2 linked regions of the Homo sapiens genome follow. The protein of the gene in region 1 interacts with the protein of each later gene in a pairwise test. Each region holds a gene or a part of one and is shown on either strand. Other genes may lie near its edges.

The links.
Region 2: the proteins of ELOVL5 (region 1) and PROM1 interact in a protein complementation assay, tested with the Homo sapiens proteins (one study listed by IntAct).

Annotation. Positions count from the first base shown.
Region 1 is NC_000006.12:53,293,281-53,297,195, reverse strand, and holds part of ELOVL5 (very long chain fatty acid elongase 5), read left to right. Parts: intron 1-1,488; 5' UTR 1,489-1,496; coding exon 1,497-1,554; intron 1,555-2,704; coding exon of another isoform or gene 2,705-2,913; exon of another isoform or gene 2,914-3,108; intron 3,109-3,915. UniProt on the Homo sapiens protein: Catalyzes the first and rate-limiting reaction of the four reactions that constitute the long-chain fatty acids elongation cycle.
Region 2 is NC_000004.12:16,077,350-16,081,264, forward strand, and holds part of PROM1 (prominin-1 isoform 1 precursor), read right to left. Parts: intron 955-3,915; exon of another isoform or gene 1-954. UniProt on the Homo sapiens protein: May play a role in cell differentiation, proliferation and apoptosis. Binds cholesterol in cholesterol-containing plasma membrane microdomains and may play a role in the organization of the apical plasma membrane in epithelial cells.

The sequences.
Region 1 (3,915 bases):
GGCAGATGGGTATGGGGAGCTGGTGCCTTCGGGGAGCTGGTGCCTTCAGGGAGCTGGTGCCTTCGTTTCCAGCCATGAATTGGTGTCAGCAGCCTCCCCAATCACCCTTGGGCAGGAAAGCTGTCAGGACAGAACCCTGTTAACTACTTTGAAAGTGTCATTGATGGCTCCTCCTATCTCTACGTCCCATCTCATCTGGATTGACTTAATTGTAACTACTACAACCATTAGATGATTTCGTGGATAAAGTAGTTTATCTTAAAATTAGCCAGTGAATACATAACGCTTCAGTGTGGCAAGCCAAGGAAGAGAAGTATTGCTAAATGATTAACAGCTTAGTTAATAAAATCAGTTCTGCCTTTGCCCTTGGACGTTATAATATTGATGATTATTCCTGTAAGAAGAATGGCCAGGAAAGTTGGAAAATCTAGTCAGTATGCATATGAAAAGTTGATTAGCTACCCTCTAAATGTAAATCTTAAATTGGGGAAGGTAGGGAGCTATAGAATCTTAGAAGATGGAGGTAAATCTTTAACTGGTATCTCAAGATGTTTTATTAAGTGAAAATAAGCAAGTAATATATACACACTTCTATATATAATAGTGTTTTTTTAGTTTTTTTTAACTGTGATCCCCACAGTAAGAATATATTTTACATCACAGCTAAGTACATTATACTTATAAATATGATATAATAAAACTAAAGTTTTATAAAACTATATTCATTCTCACTGAGAGCAAAGCATTCTGATTCTCTACTATGATCAATTATTATTTTTAATGCTAAGTTGACATGATCATCTACTAATGGTAGATTTCACCCACAATTGTGAAAACATCCATTTAGCATGACCTCTTTGTGCTCAAAAGAGGAGAAATCTCTGGAAGTATATTGAAGAAATGTTACCATTAGGTTCCTTGTGATGCGTGGCTTGGGGATTGAGGTTGAGGGAAGTAATGAGATTTTTGCCCCTTTTTTTTAATTTTTAATACTTGAATTTTTTTTTACTGTAGATATGAAGTACTGTAAAATAATAATTGATAAAAGTAACAAGCGGAAAAAACTGTCTTGTCACTGTGGCATTCTGTTCCCTGATATGGCTCTTCCTTGTCTTACCTCAAGTCCTCAGTTGTTGCCCAGACAGGATCTCTTCCTGTCTGCCACCTCTCATTCCAGTTAGTTCCACTTTTTTCCCCACTGAGATTTCAGCTTCACGGAAAGAGTTTTTATGGAACTAAGAAAAGAAGTTCAGAAAACTGGCACTTCATTTATAAAGTGAACTCACAGAATTGTGTCTTTCCTTTTGATCTTCAAGTTAGATCTAGCACAGAAGTCACTTCTGTGAATTAAATTCTTTTAACCTAAGGAACTGAACTTAACCTTGTCTGTAGCATATTCTTTGAAAAGAATTTATTCTTTTATGAAAAAATACTGTATAAAAAACATTTTGAGTAGAGATTAATCAGTATCTTTTTTTTTCTTAATAGGTTTTCAAATGGAACATTTTGATGCATCACTTAGTACCTATTTCAAGGCATTGCTAGGCCCTCGAGGTAAGGTGGTTTTTGGTTTTGCTTACCTTCTGCAGCATCACTCCCTGCCTATAGTCCCTTGTAAATATTGCATGAGGAGATAGTAGAAAATGTTAGCATTTTCTATGATAAGTCTAAAACTTTATCCTGGATAACAAGGAATTTGGAGAAGTCTCTGACAGAGACACCTGCTGTGGGTGGTCCTCCGTTGACTTTAACTGGAGTTTAAAAATATGCTGTAAAGCTTGTAGCCTGAGAATACTATAGATTTCACCATTATCAGTGGCATTTTTTTCTCAATTCTTGGCAGTCTTTAAGAAAAACTAGTTTCCAAAATGCAGTGTTGCAATAGGAGTTTAAAACCTTTCCCCTTTTACAATTTTAAGGGCTTTTTAAGGTCTTCTCATTTTGTATCATGTTAACTCACTGGTAAATATGCACCTGAACCTTACTTGCTGTATCTTTTAGAAAGTAAATCAGCTTCATATTGCCTTCTTTTGATGTCATCTGTAAAAGTCTTTTAAAGTCTTTTGTATAAAGAACTTCTTAGGCTCACAGAAAAACTAGAAATGGCTTTTAAACAGACAAAAAGAATCTCAGTTTCTCATGATTTTTAAAACACAAAAGAAATAACAAAAGGACTTAGTCTATTAACATGGCAGAGATGAAATAATAGGTTTCATGTCACCTATGATAATAGTGATAATAGTGAAGGCGTGGAGAAAGAGTACAACCTCTCTGAAAGGCTGTTTTGCCTTCTGTTGGAATTAAAATGCACATGCCCTTTTGCCTAGCCATTCTACTCCTAATACTTTATCCTGTGGCTAGCCTTGATTAGTTATGCAATGATACATATCAGGATGCTCATTACAGCATTGTTTTTCAAGGAATCATCTGGATGCCTGTCAGTAGGGGAGAGGTTCTGTAAATTAGTGTATGGCCCATTGAAAAGAACAAAAAAGAATAAGTTAGATCCATCTGTATGTGCTTGGGTTGGGATAGTGCCTTACTTTAGCTGTAAGGGACAAAAAATCCAACTCTAAATGGCTAAAATAATAATAATAATTATTAGCTTGCATTACCAGGTGGAGCAATTCCGTAGTTATTTCAGGGACTGTATGATGTAACCAAGGATCCTTGTTCTTGTCATTTTCTACTTTGCCACTTCCAGGTATCAGCAGCTCTGTCCTCAGAATGGGTCCCCCACTTCACACAGTTGTAGGATGGCTACAGCAGCTCCAAGCAGCACATTCAGAGGAAGAAGAAAAAATGTTTCATTTGTGTGGTTTTAAGCATAAAGAAGTTGTTTCCCAGAGCTCTTTGCCAGCTGTCATCCCTCAAAACTCACTGGCCACAATTGCTTCACATGCCCCTGCCTGAACCAGCCACCAGAGGGGGTTAGGACCACCACAGATTGACTAGATCCTAAGGATTCTCTACCTGGGGCTGGAGTTCGGGTCAGGTGCCCGGGAAGCACTGTGCGGTGTGGGAGGATGAATATGTGCCAATTTGGAAAGATGAGTATTTGTGGGAAAATGAATAAAGCAAAGTGTAAATCAGAGGTTTAAGTTAAAATAGGGAGATTTGTGTGTATTTATTGTTTGTGATATATATGTTCATACAAAATAACAGTCTGATGTTAGTTGCTAAGTGGGAACTGGTTTTCTTAAAATTGACAGCCAAGGCCCAAAGCTGAGAACAAAAGGTGTTAAGCATCCCCTTAAAGTCCCTGGGGCCAGCCATTTCCCTGAATGACTTCTAAGCACAACCAGTTCTGCCGGACTGACAGTAACACCCTCCGTGACCATAGCATAACTAGTGGGGAGGGTGTGGAGGGCATGTCCCTCTGAAGCCAAAGCAAGCCAGCCATGAGAGAAATGCTGGGAAAGTTTAGTGTGTACAGTGCAAGAAAGGAAGACTGACTGACAGTTCCCCACGTGGACATATGCTTTATTGAGCCTGTTCTTGTTCTGTGAAATCAAGGTGAAAACGACTGGAGAGAGTAGCAAGATGGTCCAGTCTGGGAGGGGTCAAAGAAAGGGCAGAGCCGGGTGTGGTGGTTCACTCCTGTAATCCCAGTACTTTGGGAGGCCAAGGCAGGTGGGTCCCCTGAGGTCAGGAGTTCCAGACCAGCCTGACCAATATGGTGAAACCTGGTCTCTACTAAAATTACAAAAATTAGCGGGGTGTGGTGGTGTGTGTCTATAGTCCCAGCTACTCTGGAGGCTAAGGCAGGAGAATCGCTTGGACCCTAGAGGCAGAGGTTGCAGTGAGCTGAGATCACGCCACTGCACTTCAGCCTGGGCGACAGAGTGAGACTCCGTCTCAGAATAAATAAATAAATGAATAATAAAAAAATTAAAGAAATGGCAAAGGCTGTCC
Region 2 (3,915 bases), on another chromosome or scaffold:
TATGATGCAGAAACCTTTGTTCACGTGTTTATCTGCTGACCTTCTCTCCACTATTATCCTGTGACCCTGCCACATCCCCCTCTCTGAGAAACACCCAAGAATGATCAATAAATACTAAGGGAACTCAGAGGCCAGGATGGATCCTCCGTACGCTGAACGCTGGTCCCCTGGGCCCCCTTATTTCTTTCTCTATACTTTGTCTCTGTGTCTTTTTCTTTTCCAAGTCTCTCGTTCCACCTAACGAGAAACACCCACAGGTGTGGAGGGGCAACCCACCCCTTCAATTAACCATGCGGCCAAGAGTCAAACCCACTAGTTTGCCTTCAAAGTCCAAGATCTAACTATGACATCAAGACACTGTCCCTTCAGTGCCCTCCCTCTCAGGCTCTAGTACGAGCCACTGGGGCCCCAGCAATCCAGTACATGCTTATATGCTTATTTCTTCTCCAAGTGTGTGTTGTTCTCTTTGCCGCTGGAGATATATCTTACTCTGCCTTATATTCTACTTATTTACTCACTAATCTCATTTCAAACATCCCCCTCTCCACCTCACCCCGAATCCAAAGTAGAAGGGCATGGCCTCAAGTCTAGGGACCACACCGTTTGAGGCTGGACACATGTGCAACACTGGAACCTGTCTTTCTAATAAGCTTACCAAGTAATCCTGATGGAAATCTTCACCCTAAGTCACCACCTCTACAACTAGGGGTCTCAGAGATGAAAGCCAGGGCAGAGGGAGACTCTTACCTACCCCTTGGGAGACGGAGAAAGACACAAGAATCCTAAAAGCAGCTGTGGCTCCAGCATCTGGGAAGGGAATGGGACAGAAAGTGCCTCCAAGATGGACTCTGTCCTACTCTTCTTTCAATCCCCAGACCTTAACACTGGGCATGGCACGTAGTCGGTGTTTAGTAAGTGCCTGCTGAGCAGCTTGTTTCACTCATGGCACCATCCCTGGCAGGGAAAGAAATAGCAGCAGAGTCACCAATGCATGTAACCTGCCTGCAGCAAGAAGTGCCCCAGACAGGAGGCTGCAAAGCTTTAGAGCAGGGCCTTCAGCCTAATCCAGGTAGGTGGGTGGAAACCAAACACAGCCTGCTCCAGAGCTACAGGGCAAGTGCTGGCGTAGAAGCCAAAATATGTTATTTCCTTGTGCGGTTTCATGAGACTAGGCAAATCAGCACAGAACCTGGAAGGATCCCAAGTGTACCACTCTTCCTCTCTGTATTAAGTGTCCTGGAGCAAGAGCAAGCTGCTGTCACTTTGTGAGCTAGATACATACTTACTAACTTTCAAGATAAGTACAGGGTGCTCCTGAAACACATACTGTAAGAAAGGGAAGGGGGATGATGAAGAAGGTGACATACTTTGCAAGAAGCCAGAGGACCCACTACCAATATTCCAAGTCAAAGAAAGCTTTGGACAACAGATGGGATTTCTTGAGCTATTTGAACAAAGATGTTAATTCATATCTAATCCCTCCATTGCCTCATCTTCTAAGTCCTGTCCCACTCCAATTACTCCTGCACAAAGCTACCAATACAAGGGCCCCAAATTCTTCCTTTGTCAAATCATGGGCTGCTCAGATCCCAAGTGGCTGCCAGTACTAACCTCAGGCCCACGCTTCAGGTTACGCCCACCGTCACATCCACAATAGACACCTTGACCCTGGTGTTTCCAAAGGGCTCCCTTCAAACATCTACTGCAAGCACAACACACCACATGTACACTTTATCTTGGTTTTTTTTTTTGCTAAAGGACAGGCAGAGAGCTAAGCCTCCAGCACAGCAGCTGGAAGGATTAAAGGCTCAGATGCTGAGAAGGCCCACTTTCTGGTAATTCCACCAAACCTCAGCCCAGGACAGAGAGAAACTGCCAAGGGAAGAACTATGAACAAACAGGCTCTCCAACTCCCTCAGTGACAAAGCAGGGGAAGGGAAATTCCCAGTGAAGTGAAACATAACTGCTCACCGCAGCAAAGATGGGAGACAATGACTTGAGATAGACAGCAACTGCAGTTGCACTTCCAGATTTCTTTACATCTTGCTCCAAAATGTAGGTCCCTCTGAAGTTTTAAAGTACATTTTAAGAAAGTATTAATATCTCACTAACTATGAAATACTAGAAACTGATTAAAGTCAAGTCAAAGAGGAAGAGTTTTTTATCTCGGGTTTAATAGGTTGTGCCAAAAACAGAAGCTCTGAGTATTTACCAGCTAAACCCCACTAGGTCCGAGAGCCACTGAGAGTAGCATCTGTCTCGGGATAAAATGGGGTGTTTAGTTGAAATGCAGACTATTAATGGACCTAATTTCTGGGATGAAACCCATTAATCTGCATTTTTAACAAGCTTTCCTGGGGACTGATCCTTCAAACAAAGTTTGAGAACAGTTCTGTTCCTGGAGTACTCTGATCCTGGAGTACCCGCCTAGTCAATTCATGTCACTTTCCAAGGACACTTCAGGCTTCCCAAACACATTGGAAAATAACACATGTAAGGTGAAAGCTCCCCAAATGCCCTTTTCATATTGCTTTGAATTGATCTACCCCAGCTGCTGTGCAGGTCCCTGGCTTATTTCTGTATCCCCAGAGCCTGGAACACAGTTGGTACTCAATGAAGAATTGCTACCAGCCTGGGCAACATAGAGAGGCCCTGTCTCTACAAAAAAAAAAAAAAAAAAAAAAAAAATTTAAATTAGCAAACGTAGTGGTGCACAACTGTAGTCCCAGCTACTCGGAAGTCTGAAGCAGGAGGATTACTTGAGTCCAGGAAGCTGAGCCTGTAGTGAGCCATAATCATACCACTGCACTCCAGCCTGGGCGACCTTACATGATTTTGAGCCTGGAGTCCAGAGAACTGCATTTCAATACTGGTTTAAAAGCAAATATGGCCCGGGCGTGGTGGCTCAAGCCTGTAATCCCAGCATTTTGGGAGGCCGAGGCGGGCGGATCACGAGGTCAGGAGATCGAGACCATCCTGGCTAACATGGTGAAACCCTGTCTCTACTAAAAATACAAAAAAAATTAGCCAGGTGTGGTGGTGCACACCTGTAGTCCCAGCTACTCGGGAGGCTGAGGCAGGAGAATCACTTGAACCCGGGAGGCGGAGGTTGCAGTGACCTGAGATCATGCCACTGCACTCCAGCCTGGGTGACAGAGACTCCATCTCAAAAAAAAAAATTAAAAATGAAAAAGCAAATATGGTGATCAATCACCTTCATTTCTTCTTTTCTTCTTTTGATGGAACTTCTCAGAATCTTTCTTTTTAAAGAAGAGCTTTGTAGTGGATTTTTGTCATCTGGAGTGCTTTTGGCGGGGGCATGGGGGATACCCAACATCTGAGACCACGTTTGTGAGCTGGGTGGGAGGCAGCCCTGCCTTGCATTGTGAGGTCAGCTGAGGCGCCCAAACTGTGTCCTGGTGGAGCTGAGCCATGCTGGGCCAATCAGAAGCTTTCTTCTGGGCCTGGGCCTGCGCACTCTGAAGCAGGACAGTATCTAATTCATTCCAGCAATGATGGCAGCAATGCCAGTAGCCACATCCAGGGTCCTGTTCTGGCAGCCGCAGCCACCCACCCATCAGGGGTCCTGTGGCATGTCCTAGATTCCTAAGCCTGGCTAGCCAGCCTTGCTGCCACTTACCTAAGCCACCCAGGGACCATCCTTTCAAGAAGTCCTTTTATATATATACATATACATATATATATGTATATGTATATATATTTTTTTATTATACTTTAAGTTCTAGGGTACATGTGCACAATGTGCATGTTTGTTACATGTGTATACATGTGCCATGTCGGTGTGCTGCACCTATTAACTCGTCATTTACATTAGGTATATGTCCTAATGCTATCCCTCCCCACTCCCGCCACCTGACAACAGGCCCCGGTGTGTGATGTTCCCCTTCCTGTGTC